4 linked regions of the Homo sapiens genome follow. The protein of the gene in region 4 purifies or fractionates together with the protein of the main gene of each other region. This does not show direct contact. Each region holds a gene or a part of one and is shown on either strand. Other genes may lie near its edges.

What was found. The genes of interacting proteins can lie anywhere in the genome.
Region 1: the proteins of SLC35G1 (region 4) and ENPP1 purify together in Homo sapiens (affinity purification with mass spectrometry; one large-scale study listed by BioGRID and IntAct). This does not show direct contact.
Region 2: the proteins of SLC35G1 (region 4) and ADCY9 purify together in Homo sapiens (affinity purification with mass spectrometry; one large-scale study listed by BioGRID and IntAct). This does not show direct contact.
Region 3: the proteins of SLC35G1 (region 4) and ANKRD44 purify together in Homo sapiens (affinity purification with mass spectrometry; one large-scale study listed by BioGRID and IntAct). This does not show direct contact.

The regions. Positions count from the first base shown.
Region 1 is NC_000006.12:131,884,520-131,888,019, reverse strand, and holds part of ENPP1 (ectonucleotide pyrophosphatase/phosphodiesterase family member 1), read right to left. Parts: intron 3,090-3,500; coding exon 2,957-3,089; intron 1,459-2,956; coding exon 1,296-1,458; intron 1-1,295. UniProt on the Homo sapiens protein: Nucleotide pyrophosphatase that generates diphosphate (PPi) and functions in bone mineralization and soft tissue calcification by regulating pyrophosphate levels.
Region 2 is NC_000016.10:3,962,153-3,966,442, forward strand, and holds the end of ADCY9 (adenylate cyclase type 9), read right to left. Parts: coding exon 3,623-4,290; 3' UTR 501-3,622; downstream 1-500. UniProt on the Homo sapiens protein: Adenylyl cyclase that catalyzes the formation of the signaling molecule cAMP in response to activation of G protein-coupled receptors.
Region 3 is NC_000002.12:197,006,781-197,010,280, forward strand, and holds part of ANKRD44 (serine/threonine-protein phosphatase 6 regulatory ankyrin repeat subunit B), read right to left. Parts: intron 2,252-3,500; coding exon 2,164-2,251; intron 1,144-2,163; coding exon 1,026-1,143; intron 1-1,025. UniProt on the Homo sapiens protein: Putative regulatory subunit of protein phosphatase 6 (PP6) that may be involved in the recognition of phosphoprotein substrates.
Region 4 is NC_000010.11:93,896,978-93,900,477, reverse strand, and holds part of SLC35G1 (solute carrier family 35 member G1), read right to left. Parts: intron 1,908-3,500; coding exon 1,727-1,907; intron 1-1,726. UniProt on the Homo sapiens protein: May play a role in intracellular calcium sensing and homeostasis. May act as a negative regulator of plasma membrane calcium-transporting ATPases preventing calcium efflux from the cell.

The sequences.
Region 1 (3,500 bases), on a different chromosome or scaffold from region 4:
CATGGGTGGCAGGTGCCTGTAATCCCAGCTATTCGGGAGGCTGAGGCAGGAGAATCGCTTGAGCCCGGGAAGCGGAGGTTGCAGGGAGCCGAGATCACGCCACTGCCTTCCAGCCTGGGTGACAGAGCAAGACTCCAAAAAAAAAAAAAAAAAAAGGCCAGGCACGGTGGCTCACGCCTGTAATCCCAGCATTTTGGAAGGACAAGGCGGGTGGATCACAAGGTCAGGAGATTGAGACCATCCTGGCTAACACGGTGAAACCCCATCTCTACTAAAAAAAAAAAAAAAAAAAAATTAGCCGGGTGTGGTGGCGGGCGCCTGTAGTCCCAGCTACTCGGGAGGCTGAGGCAGGAGAATGGCGTGAGCCCAGAAGGCGGAGCTTGCAGTGAGCCGAGATCATGCCACTGCACTCCAGCCTGGAAGCCAAAGTGAGACTCTGTCTCAAAAAAAAAAAAAAAAATTAGCTGGGTGTGGTGGCGGGCGCCTGTAGTCCCAGCTACTCGGGAGGCTGAGGCAGGAGAATGGTGTGAACCCAGAAGGCGGAGCTTGCGGTGAGCCGAGATCATGCCACTGCACTCCAGCCTGGGAGCCAAAGTGAGACTCTGTCTCAAAAAAAAAAAAAAAATTGCTAAAATGTTATGCAGTCTTGATGTCCCAATCTACAATGTAGATTTTTAAAATTCTGAGCAAATAAGATAATATAAAACAATTATTCCCAAACACACTGGGATGACAATACGATAAGAAAGGAAAAGATTTTTTATAATTAAGTGATACACAGAAAATTTGAAATGTTGTCTAACAACTTTAATTTATAACAGTGCTGACACTTTGAAATTATACATCCAGTTTTAAAAAAAGAGAAAATCCATACCTCAGATAAACCTAGACTTTAGTGGTTAAGCCATACAAAGTTTGATTCTGATCTGATTTTTAGTATCTTTACCAGACAAAGGGGCCAGGCAGGGTGGCTCACACCTGCAATCTCAGCACTTTGGGAGGCCAAGACAGGAGGATCATAAGAGGCCAGGAGTTCAAGACCAGCCTGGGCAACATAGAAAGACCCTATCTCTAAAAAAAAAAAAAAAAAAAAGAAAAAAGTAAAAGCAGACAAGGGTAGTCTTCCCCAAAGATATGTCATCTTAAAAGATCAAATTTAAAAGCATCCTATAATTTCGAAGTCCATGTGTACTCAGTTGTGCTTTCTCTCACTGTAATGTCAGATGGGTGACATAAACAAATATGCATATGTCTAGATTTTCAACATGCAAAGTAAATATACAAAAGCTACTTACCACACAGCTCTCGCTGTTATCAGTCCTGTGAGGCAAAATGAAAGCTAAGGTGTCTAGGTTTTCACAGTGCAAAGGCGTCTGAGATGTATCTTTACAGCTTGTTAGCACAATAAAGAAGTGAGTTGGAATCAAAATTTCTTGGTTACGGATGACTCTTCTTTTTCTGTAAAACATGCCAATATTCATTTTAAGAAAGAAATAACTATCTTCCTTTTGATGAATATTTCAGTAGAGCATGCTTTTAATACATATAAAAATCAAATTCAAACAAATAATTAAATATAAGAAGCTAGTAATCACAATACCTCAACATACTCTGCCAGATTGAGAGCAATAATTAGAAGACAGGCAGATAAACACACTCCAAATAATTTTTATTTTCTGTAGAAGTTTATTGACTTTTAGAATTCTTTTAGTTCTACCTAAAGACATTGAAATTGAAACACTAAAGAAAAGAAAATGTCATTTTTGAACACCTATGACCAAGAGTGTAAACCATTATTGATAGTCTTAACTTCTAGGCGATTATAGACAAATAGTGGGCAGAGAAAGAACTGGTTAGGAATTTTCTATTCCAGCCCCTTCAGAGAGGACATGTTGTCATGAATTGTTTGTTCTAACTGGATTTTCTTCCTTAATAACTTAATTTTTTAAACTGAAGTATATTATCAAAGATGTCCCAAACATCTTTACCTCATAGTCATTCTCCTATTTTAAGGCTGTGTTTGTTTTTTCAACATCTTTCAAAATTTAAGGCAGTGGAATCATTGTTTTCAAATATGACCTTATGTAGAAACATAATCTATAAAACAGATTTAAACAGAGGGCTCTGGGTGAAGCCGTGGGTAGGAAGCATATGCAGTTCTCTTCTGTATCCTCTCCAGTGCTACAGCTTCTAAGGCAGCTTTATGCCTCAAGGGAAAGTAAAAAACTGTAACTTTGCAAATTGATGTGCTTTCTGATGTATTTTGTAAGTCACATATATCTAAGTCAGCCTGGGAGAGTAGGAAAGTTCTGAGAGGGGCTGAATCTCAGTGGAATCTCAGTCTTTTTCCTACGGACTTAACAGCAAAATTGCTTCCCAAACTGCTGTAATTATTGTTTCAATAAAGATCAACCAGTTTCCAAGATGTTCTTTCCCTCTCTTTTTTAAAAAAGCACCACTGATGGTTTCCTTCAGACGGTTGCTTTTTATCATGCCCCTCCAGCCACAGTTGGGTAAAAGCCATAACATTCACCCAAGGCCACCAGACTCCAAGCACTGCAGCTTTATAACCCTATTCATTCCTAGACTCAGGATATCTGTAGCCACACCATAGAGTTCTTCATCTTCTGACTCACAATATATTAAGATCATATCTTAACAATCAGCCACACAGAGATCTTAAATGAGTTCAGCATTTAAACTGAGTGCAAAAATTATTCAACTGAACTGAATGGGTGAGAAACACTACTTTTTTACCTAAAAATATTTTACTGAACATTGAGCAAAACATCAAAATTAATCAGATATTTCAAGAGGCTTCCTGTGTAGTCAGAAGTGTCATACACATAAACATACGACACTGGATAAAAAAGGTTCTGTTGACTCAACTGGATGGTAATCCCATTTCTACTGGATGGTAATTCCTATTTTTAAGAGTAATGAAATATGTTCTTACTGCCTCAGATTCTCTAAGGAATCACAACGTCCATCATAATCAAAGTCAAACACAGGACCACTGACGACATTGACACCATTTCTTTCTTCAGCATACTTTCGCAGTAGGGTGTCATGAAAGTAGCGCCATATAACTGAAACAAGATAGAAGCCAGTGTAGTTTCAAAAGAACAAGGGACCATGTTGACGTGTGAAATAAATTAACACCATGATTCAAAATTAGCATTTATAGTAAATAAAGATAAAGTCAAGTTTGGCTTCAGTCTTCGTTTTGTTTTGTTTTTTGTTTAGAGACAGAGTCGTGCTATATCACCCAGGCTGGAGTGCAGTGGCACAATCATAGCTCACTGCAGCCTCAAACTCCTGGGGTCAAGAGATGCTCCTGCCTCAGTCTCCAGAATAGCTAGGACTACAGGTGCACATCACCATGCCCAGCTAATTAAAATTTTTTGTAGAGACTAGACACCAGATCTCACTGTTTCCCAGGCTGATCTTGAACTCCTGGCCTCAAGCAGTCCTTCTGAGTTGGACTCCCCAAAGGGCTG
Region 2 (4,290 bases), on a different chromosome or scaffold from region 4:
AAAATGGCATGTGTGTTTTTCTGGGAAGAGGCTCTATGACTTTAAACAGATTCTGAAGGGGCTTTGTGACTTCCTCAAAACACCTGGGACCCCAGTGATCTGTGTACCTGCAATCACTCTTTCCTTTTCAGAAAACCTACTTTTTCCCCCTCAATTCCTTCTCTAAGGATGTTGCAGAAAACTATTTAGGAGGCCTGACAGGGAAAATCTCACAAGCAAAACTTGTCCTGCAACCTTACTTTTATTGTTTAAAAAATTCTGTGTAAAAATAAATACTTTTCAACTCAAGTTAACTGGAGCAAATAGATCCAATTAAAAAAATAACATAAACACAAACAGGGTTTTCTACTTGCCCTGTTTCTGAAGTCATGACGTGAAAGAAAGGCAAACCCACCCAGGTGAGCCACAGATCGCAGAAAACACGAGCTGTCCAAGGAAGACCGCCCTCCTCTCTGAAGCAGTGCTCATCTTTTCAATAAGAAAACACCAGGCATCATATATTTAAATTTTAGAATATTTTAATGTCCATTTCTTCAGTGAATGCATTTTGAAATTATTAGAATTAACAATTTAAAAAGAGCAGATAAAAGGATATATGGAAAATGCAAACAGTCGGTTCTTGCTAATTCAATTTCAGATTCTAGGCATGATGTGATTTTCCAAACAACCAATTAAAAAAAACTCCTTACCTCGAAAATCTAGAAATTCAAATGCAGACGTGTCTTTGGAAACTACAAATGATTACAGCCCATGTGACAGGAAGCACGCGGCCTTCGGCTCTCCGGATCGTGTGCAAATGTGCAGGGGGAGCCCCCGCGGGTGACGTCAGTGTGGATGAAGTCACGGGTGTGGCAGAGCCTGTGGGGCTCTCAAGCTATTCGAGGGTTTTGTAACTGATGCTCTACATTTGTTTGCATTGGATAAAATTGTGTGTGCTTGTTTACCATATATATATATATATATATATATATATATATATATATATATATATGGATATATAATTCGATCTGAGCTGGGACTGAGAAGAAAATAGCAATTGCAACTCAAAGCAACTATTTACACACATTCAATGCTGAAGTATTGCTTCCTGCCCTAAGTTCCTAAGAGGTATTGCCACCCTGAAGCACGACCCATGCCGTCAGCAGCCCTCGTGCCAGCTGCTTAGAAACTCGTGTCTCCAGCACGATGTGCTCGCTGCCAACAGACAAGAGATGCACGGCGTTTCCGCTGCAGAGATTCTGTGGTTCTGCACTGAGGTATGCATCGGAGCAGGGGACGGGGAGGACCCGAGGGGCTTCGTGGCCCAGAGAGAACGTCTGCACTGGCTGTTTAGGAAGGCTCAGGGTGTTTGAAAGACAACGTTAAGCTCTGGGTGAGTCTGCACGGGGCTGAACCAGACTCCACTTTGCAGCTCCTTGGTTTCCCGGGGTGAGGAATCACAAACACCTTTGTGGTTGGGGAAGGAAATGGGCTTGATGGGGAAGAAGTGTGTGCGGAGAACTTTGCGGAGCATGTTCTGAGCGAGACAGCAAGGTCGTGAGCAAACGCCCAGCCCCTCAAAGCTACACAGCCTGGAGGGGAAAGGGGAGGGGAGGACATTCAAATATACACCTTAATACTGATGCAGAAAGAGCTTCATGTGACCACAATCCCCACGAACAAGGAAAGCATCAGGTAGTGTTTTTTAAGGAAAAAAAAAAATCTGCGGTGTTTTATAATACATTCTTTAGAAGCAAGAGGTATTGTCACAACCACCCTTTCTTCGGTATTGGAAGACCAGCAAACTGACAGTCACACCTGACAGGAAACCTTACAGCTAATGGGGGGAGGTGCCCTGGACTCTCAGGACGCCGGGACCCTGGCTCTGGCTGTCCTGATGGGTGGCCATCCCAGGCACCGCCCCTGGAGAGGTGGCGGGTCAGAATTGTGACTTCTTCATGCCGGGGAGGGCAATCTGTATGTCTCTGGGGAGGAGTAGTGATGATGGGGACTGATGCGGTGTGAAAACGAGACAGTGAGATTTGACAGCGGAAAGCAAAATGCACAGGGACAACGGGCAAGACTGACAAGGAGTGCACCCTGGGCCTCATCAGCGTCCCGGGGTCCCCTGAAAGACTGGCTACAACTCCGACCGGACAACTCGGGCGAGCTCACTTCCACACAAACTTCAGACTCAATATGGCAAAACATAATCAGACAGGACCAGCAGCCAACTGCCCGGACGGAGCTCCCCCACACCACCCTCGGGATTCCGCCCCTAACAAACCCCGCGTTTGCATCCAGATGCCTCTGTCCCTAGATACGGTGTGAGAACTCCATTTCAGAGCTGGAATTTGCTCCCCAGATTAAATCCTGCCACTGATAGGCCCTGTGCCATCTGAGAGCGGGAGGCAGCCAAGAAACTTCTGGAATTTGTGGAAGCCAAGATGGCACCGGTGCTGCCGGCACAGACCCCCGTGGTTCTGAGCTGGACCCCGGCAGGGAGGAGCCCCCGTGGGTGGCAGGGGCAGCTGGTGGGCTTCTCCTATTCCCCTAGCCTCAGAATTGCACTGGCCATGCTTTGAGGTCCCACTCAGACCCCTCTTGGGGTGGGGAGGTTGGGGGCGGCCCCAGGTGGCCAAAACACAAAAGAGACATCTGGTTACCTTCCTGGGAACTGCCCTCCCCTGTGGCTATGACCCCCCACCCTGAGGACCCAGCACCCCTCCCGGGAGCGCACATGCTTCCGGGTAAATAAATAAATAAATAAATGCAACCTCGGATGTTTATTTGGTATTTCCCTCTCCGATGAGTCAGCTTCCAGGACCAACACCTCCACTCCCGATGGGGAGACCCCTGGGTGGAGGGTCGGGGGTGAGAGGCGGCTCTGAGACCCCCGAGGCCTGGGCACACGGGCGTCGTGCCCGGCTGGCATTTGCTGTCTTGGCCTGCATGCATGTGGGCGAGCCCCTAAACCCGCTCAGTGCAGGGAGCGCGGCTCACCCACAGCCCACGGGGCGCGGTGCTCGGGAAAGTGCGGGTGGGCAATGGGGGGTGGCGGAGCTGTCGTGACATGCCCCCTTCGCACCCCCTCTTGGCGGATTACTGGCACTTTATATCAGATTCATGAATGCAAGTGTGTGTGCGCATGTGTGCTTACATAGAGAGGTCGGGTCGTAGAGGAACACTGTGACATAGACAGAAACAAAATAAACTCAAAAACAGGGTATTAGCCAGAGAACCGAAAATAGTGTCTCGTGGGACGTGGGAAAAAGCAATAAAAATGAGATCTTAACCACAGCTTTTGTTCTAAAAGTCAAATAATACCCAAAGCCATGATCTCCACTGGCGGCCTCTGTCCCGAGACTCGAGGCCGAGGCCAGCCCTGAAGGCACTTGTTCTCCACCACGTGCTGAACGGATGACCCAGAGGCAGCGGGGTTTCCAGGGAAGGGAGCGAAAGGGAAGAATGGATGAAAATGAACCCTGAATAACTGTGATCCACACAGAAGTTAGGGCTGAAATGACCACATAACACCACGTCCGGGGAGGGCAACTGTGGCGCTTGGAAAGCACAACAGCCAAATACAAATATTACTGTGTTTCGACAAACAGAGCACCTCGGGCAGCGGGTGGGCGCCGCCTCACACACTCTTTGAAACGTTGAGCTTGGTGAGTTCGTTGGCTTCTTCTATTCCTGTTTCGTCACAGTCGTCTTTCTCTATGGCTTTGCCAAATCGACCCCTTTCTTCGGCTTTGACGGGCTCCTTCCACGGTCTCTTGGGGGACAGGTGGGCATCCTTGGCCTGCGTGCTGCTGTCAGAACCCAGAGATGTCTTGTCCACATACTGGACAGAAGGCACCAGGTTGGCAATCTCGTCTGTGGGAGACCGTCCGATGCTGCCATCCACCTGGACGCGGATGTCTGGGGAGATGGACAGCTGGTGCTGTGGGATGACCCTGTGATCCGTGCACTTTGGGTACAGGTAGGTCTTCATCTGGCCTTTCCCCTTGACATTCACGGTCCCTCTGTAGTCGAAGTCATAGCCCATCTTGCTCAAGACGCGGTAGCTCTCTTCGCTCACCTGGATGCGGCACTCCACGCCGGTGGTGTCCATCCTGCTGGCGATGTTGACGGTGTCTCCCCAGATGTCGTACAGCAGCTTGGTGGTGCCGATGACCCCGGCCGTGAGGGGCCCATGGTTGAAGCCGACGCGGAGCTTGAAGTTGAACCACAGCATGTTGTTGTTGAAGTCGTCCACCACGCGCATCATCTCCTTGGCGAACTCGAACAGGATCTGCAGGTGCTCCT
Region 3 (3,500 bases), on a different chromosome or scaffold from region 4:
TGTGTTTACTTAGTTTATTTGGCATGCTTTAAAAAACAGTTCAGAGGGTGCAAGTGGCTAATGCCTGTAATCCCAGCACTTTGTGAGGTGGAGGCAGGAGGATCACTTGAGCCCAGCAGTTTGAGACCTGCCTGGGCAACATGGCAAAACCCCATCTCAACAGAAAATACAAAAATTAGCTGGGCATGCTGGCATGCACCTGTGGTCCCAGTTACTGGGGGGAGTTGAGGTGGGAGGATCATTGAGCCTGGGAGGTGGAGGTTGCAGTGAGCTGAGATTGTGCCACTACACTCCAGCCTGGGTGATAAGAGTGAGATTAAAAAAAAAAAACCAAACACTTCAACAGATGTGTGCAAATAATTGCCCACAGGATACATATTTTGGCATTATTTGTAAGGACAAACAATTAGAAATTGCATAACTACTGAAAACCAGGTAATCATTGAAATAAACTATGACACTTGAACACAATGAGGCATTAAAAATCATGATGCAGAAAAAAATGAAATGAAAAAAGATCCTTGATATACTAAGAGAAAAAAGCAGAATCCAAATGATATCTTCAGTATTCTCTTTTTAAAATCTAAAACAAATCTATATATAGAAAAAAGATTGGAGATAATATACATCAAATAGTGGTTATCTCCAGGAGGTATGATTACTGGTGATTGTGATTTTCTTCTCTGGGCTTTAAAAAAAAATATTCTGCAAATTTTCTATGATATACTTGTATTTTGTAGTCAGAAAGCAGAACCAATTTCACCAGCAGTAGGTGTTCATGCATCTATTATCACAATCTAACATGAAATCTTAAGAGCAAAACCTTCCATTATTTTGCCTTTGCCAAGGATTTTGTAATTTCTTTTGGACTGAATAAGGTTAATTGGTTGTATTAGGAAACAATTTTTGCTAAACATTTTTTGCTAAAAATCCAATCAAAGTAGGCCCTTTGTAATTGTTTGCTAAAAAAGAAAACAAGCTCATTAAAAAAATTGCTTGACTAGAGCTGAGAAAGATGTACATACCCCTCTGTGTAAAGCTGTGCATCCTAGGATGTCAACAGTGTCTACGTTGGCTTCCTTTTCAAGTAACAATGAAACAGCGTCAATATGTCCATATGCTACTGCAAGCATCAGTGGTGTTCTAGGCAGAGAGATAAAGCAGGCTTTTAAAAAGGAGATTTAAAAAAATATTCATCACTACCAGTAGGAAGACATTCTCTTTCTCCCATTCTCTTCCCCTCTCCTTTTGACAATTTCTTAATATTTTCTAAGTGTCCCCAGTTTGCTATACAATATGCAGAACAAGCTATCTGCCTCTGCTCTAATGGCCACATGGAATGTTGTTAGTGGAATGATCCCTAGGGATGAGGCAGGGGAAGCTTCCTTTTCAAAATATTCATGTTAATCCCATCATTTTCAGATCCATGTAGCATTTACTAGATATCAAGGGCGGGGAGTATGTGTATGCAGAAGCCCCTCTTGCTTCCATCAGAGCAGCTCTACTTTGTAGTATTCTATGTTGGACTTCTGCTAAAGATTTCATTTACACAAAGCTTCTTTCCCTAAAGAAAAGTCTGTCAAGTCTCCGGGAAAGAATGAAGTGTTGTGATGCAAGAGGGAGGTGAGATTCTGACTATCACACTGATTCACATGCCTGGGGCTAGTCACTGCTGACTTTTGCTCTGCATTTCCTATTTGTAAGAGAAGATTAGGTGGGGAATATGCCAACAGAAGGAAATTACTTTGAAAAAGCAAAGTTGAGGAAGAAAAGGCATCTGAAGGATTTTAATAATAGAGATAACCTCATGAGGTCTGTCCTATTTATTAATTAGAAAATGGCAATGGTGTAGCAGCTTCAGAAGAAGGTAAAAATGGGCGGAAAGAGGGAACAAAGGAGAGAATATAAATAAGAGCCGGGAAACATGGCCACAGCCCTTAAAAAGGTGATCCTTTCATCAAGACATGTGCACACCCACTCCTTCATGCTTTTCTTGGATATACGCACTGTGACTTAAAGCCACCTCATTGTGTATTGGTCCTGGTCCAAATATATTCCTCCAATTTCTCGGTTCCGCAGTCAGCCTTGTAATGATTTAAGAAACCAACCAGGTAGCTGCTGTGATTGAAATGTCAACCCAAGGCCACGTGTGAGCGCACTTACTGTCCTTTGGCATCTTTCACATCGACCGCCTCCGGGTTGTCTGCAATTTCTAGCAACAGCCGTAAACACAGTGTGTGACCATTAATTACTGAAAAAGAAAACAGTGGACAGTCTTTTAACAGAACAACACTACACATATCTCTTCCAAATGACTTTTTCTTTTTTTTGAGATGGAGTCTTGCTCTGTCGCCAGGCTGGAGTGCAGTGGGGCGATGTCATCTCATTGCAATCTCCACCTCCCAGGTTCAAGCTATTCTCCTGCCTCAGCCTCCTGAGTAGCTGGGATTACAGGCATGCACCACCATGCCTGGCTAATTTTTGCATTTTTAGTAGAGACAGGGTCTCACCATCTTGGCCAGGCTGGTCTCGAATTCCTAGCCCCAGGTGATCCGCCAGCCTCGGCCTCCCAAAGTGCTGGGATTACAGGCATGAGCCACCAAGTGACCTTCTGAGACAGAATCTCACTCTGTCGTCCAGGCTGGAGTGCAATGATATGATCTTGGCTCACTGCAACCTCCGCCTCCCGAGTTCAAGTGATTATTCTGCCTCCCGAGTAGCTGGGATTATAGGCATGCACCACCACACCCGCTAATTTTTGCATTTTTAGTAGAGATGGGGTTTCACCATGTTGCCTAGGCTGGTCTTGAACTTCTGGGCTCAAGCAATCTGACTGCCTTGGCCTCCCAAAGTGCTGGGATTACAGGCATGAGCCACCGTGCCTGGCCCCAAGTGACATTTATTTGGACTTCAAATCAGTGGTTTTCCATTGTTGCCGCTGGATCCCCCTCGGCTTCCAGCTCAAGGTAGTTTCCAGGCAGAGTGCCTCTGTGTTAATCTGTCTTCCCCCTTCTTCCTAGCAGGGTGCATTGATCCCCACCTTCCTTTTCTAGTTCCTGTGTTGAGGGTTTTTTCTTACACTTGGGGTCCTTTCTTATCTCCTGTCATGGGACTAATAATCTCTCCCCACTAGTCAGCTCCCCTTTTTGTTCCTCTGAGTCACCCAATTCCATATAATCATACTGTATCTACCCTGCCTCCAACCCCTTTAAAAAGAAGGAAGAAGGGAGAGAAGGGAGTGGAAGTGTGAGGGGAGCAGGAGCAGGATGGAGGAGGAGGAGGAAGGCGAGGAAGGAAGGAGAGAAGTGGAGGGGAGAGGGGAGACGGTCAGAAGGGAAGGGAGTAGGGACCTGGGGCCGCCTCTTCTCCCAGGTCGTTTTACATTCTGAGGTAGATATTCAGAAGAGGTATTCCTGCAATAGCTCTGACTGATGGGTGGTGGCAGAAAACAAAACCTCACGCCGGCTGGGTGTGCACGCTCCATCCGCTCACTGTTGAGT
Region 4 (3,500 bases):
ATCCCACGTATATGTATATATATGCTTGCAAAAAGGACAAAAAGGAAAATAAACTAAATGTTAATCATGTTTATATCTTAATAGATAAACTCATAGGTAATTTTCTTTCTTTATATTTATTTTCTCCAAATTTTCTATAAACATATCACTTTTATGATAAATACAATGTCAAGATTCAGCTGCCCTGTGTAAGGAAACTTAGACCCAGCTAATGCTCATTCTCAATCTCATGAATTTTTCTATAAAACTTGAAACTGCTAAAATTTATTTTAGTCATTGAATATGAGACAAGTTTTCATTGTTCTCATGAGGAAAGAGTCAAAACACACTGAAAAAGAACATGTAGTGTTTGGAAAAGTATGATTACTGCTATTCAAATTCTTTTTCAATAAATATTTACTAAGTACCCACTCTGTGTAGGTTCCTGGCTAGGTGCAACTTGCTGACGTGTGCCAGGGCTAGACTTCATTAGATTATCATCTAGGCTACCCCGGGTATCTTGGAGTTAAAATGAAAGCACGGTCACATTTGGCCCATACTTTGAGAAGCAAAGAGTCTTCCATGATAATAAAACATAAAATGGGTCAAAACAGATGAGGACCAAGGATTTTAACAACATTCTTCCAGTGTCCTTCCCCTGACAATATCTTTATTTCAAAATGGGGGAGATGATTATGTTAGCATCGGTGTTCTGCTGCTACCCTTAGAAATTTCTAAAGCCCTACCATCATTTCTTAAAATAGTGTGACTTGTCCGCATTGACAGAAATTTGCAGGTATTAGCAGGTTTTCACTTTTCCCACCAAATCATCAGGATATGGAGTGAAACTATTCTAAGTGAATCCGCACCATGTTAGAGATACAAGGAGACTTTGGTGACAAGTGACTAAAGCTTTTCATTTGGGGTGTAGCCTTTTTTGCCCAAAGAGACAAAGAGCCAGGCAGCCACCAAGGACCCAACTGGTCTCGCTCTCAGGGTTCTAAATACACTGAGGTATATGGAGGTTACAATGGTTGAAGGAGGCATAATTTTAACCCAGGGAGGGTAGGGAGTTCAACAGGGAAGGAAAAGAGGAATTGGGTTGGGAGAGAACAGAGAGGGCGGAATAGAGACAATTTTCATATACTGTTACACTCTACACAAGGCACTCCACCCTATAATAAATCTTATTTGACCCTTGGAATCACCTTGTAGGGCAGAAGTCACACAGTATCATTCCCTCTAGTTTACAAAAGAGGAAACTAAATACGAAAGTAACCTTGCTCAGGGTTACCCCATCACCTTTTGAGGAATACCTAAATATTATTACTATAATCTTCTATTTGCCCTGGTAAGAAAGCAGCCCATTCTAAAAAAACTTCTGATACTAGGATACACTATTACTTCTTTTCATTCATTTTTTTAACTTCCAAACAGTAGTTATGCCAAAGGAAAGAAGGGAGGGTGATACAAGACAAGAGGAATTATACAAAGAAAGCTCTGTTTTCAAAAGGGGAGGTGGTGAAAAACAAAATTTCTTTCTCCCCACTTTGTTGGGTATGTGGTTTATGCTCATGGTAGAATCTTCTGTGGGTAGATGCTTATGACTTTTCATTAAGCAGAGCCAAGGGGCATAGGAACTGGTAAGTATATGAGATGGATAAAGCAGATAGAGTAATTATAGGCAGGTGAAAAGATATACACACATTTATTAATATCTTCTACTTTGCAGTTAAAAAATACTTACTTTCTGTATATTAAGCAAGGGATAACAACTAGCATTTGGAACACACATCGAAACGCACTAATCTCTACAGCATGGACGTCTTGCACTTTTTTAACAAATAAAGAGCCCACTGAGAAAAGGAAGGCAGACAATAATGTGTAAAACAAGCCAAGTCCAGGACAGGGTGCTTTCTTCTTGGCTTCTGAAAAAGATTAAATTCTGGTTAGTCCTTGCTTCCAAGTGTATGTGTTATCATTTTCACTTAGAAACTGAGAAAAATGGAACAGTGTCAAAGGTCAACAGGCTTTATTACCTCCTAAGCATATCATTTCTCTGGGCCTGTACCATTTTCCCCATCAATTATGAAGAACCATAGATGAGGATAACAATTTAAACCTGCATTTTTAAAATGCCGTTTCGCCCTATCAAATGGATTTCCTATGGCTCACTGAAGAATCATCCTCACTTACAAGTCAAGAAGTAGAACGCTTGCCAAGATGGTGAGAGAAATCTTTAAGAAACACTTGTCAAGATGGCAAGTAAAAAATCCTTCCAAGTGATATCTTACGCCACACCTCACTGGCGAAATTGGCTTTATGAAGAAAGTGTTCTTTTCTGGAAAATGGGTTATAATTGGGTTATACAGTTATCTGTTGATTATTTGACTTCCTCCCACAAGTCTGTGAGCTCTTCCAGGGCTGGGATCTTGCTGTCTTGTACATGCCTGGCACATGGAAGACACTGGATAAATATTCAGTGAATGAAAGATGAGAGAACTTCAGGGAAAGACTCAAGAGTCTAACACTATCGGCAACAGCATAATCTGGGAAGGTTCTCCATTTTGTTATTTTGAACTGTTAATCAAATCTATATTTAACTTTTCATGCTTTCACGACTTATCTTCCCATTCAGAGCACAAACTCCTCAAGGGGAGGGTGTGGGTTATCTAGCCCTTTGGATCCCAAGTGCTTTGTACAGAACTGCCATCTAATCCCTACTCTTGGCTCGATCTGAACGAGGAAACCAGTGCTTTCTCCAGGGCATCAAGTATTCAGTCATTAATGACAATCTGTGTGAGCTTTAAACTTGTTTAGCCACTTACTATGTCTTAGTTTCCTACACAGGAGTAGAACCTGCTTTCAGTCTTACTCCTCTGTCATTCAGAGAGCAAAAGCAGCAGGGTGGGCAGAGAATGCCCTAAAACAAAGGTCACACACTGCGGGATATATTCTTTTTTGAAATTAACACAAAAACAGGGTTGAGGGTAAGAAGGAAACACAAGTGGCCCTCATTGATTAAGAGCACAGTGGAACTGAAGGGTGAGTGGATATGAGCAACTTGTAGGAAAACTCGTATTATCATTCCAATCTAGGACTTTATAATGTGATAGCTATAAAACAGTATTGTGTAATGTTTTTTAAAATGCCCTTCTCTGATAAATGTAAACACCAGGTAACACATTTACACATCCTCAGGTTAGTGAGATGACTTTGCAAACTGGGACCAAAGTATGCTGATGCACAGGCTTTCTGGGGCATTCTACAGCCTGGCCTTGTGGTCAAAGGCACCCTTCTCTACCTCTTCCTGTTCTAGGTGCACAGCTGAAGATACTGCTTTGGAACTAGCAGTAGTCCTTCCCTTAAGATGCCAGAATCCTCATTCTGTTCTGTATCCATGTGCTTGTATACTGCAGAAATAAACTGCACACACGCAGCCCACGAGAAGGAAGCTTTAGAAGACTTCCAAGTGAAGCACCACAAAATACATGCCTTGGCTGTGGTCAGCCTTAGGGTCT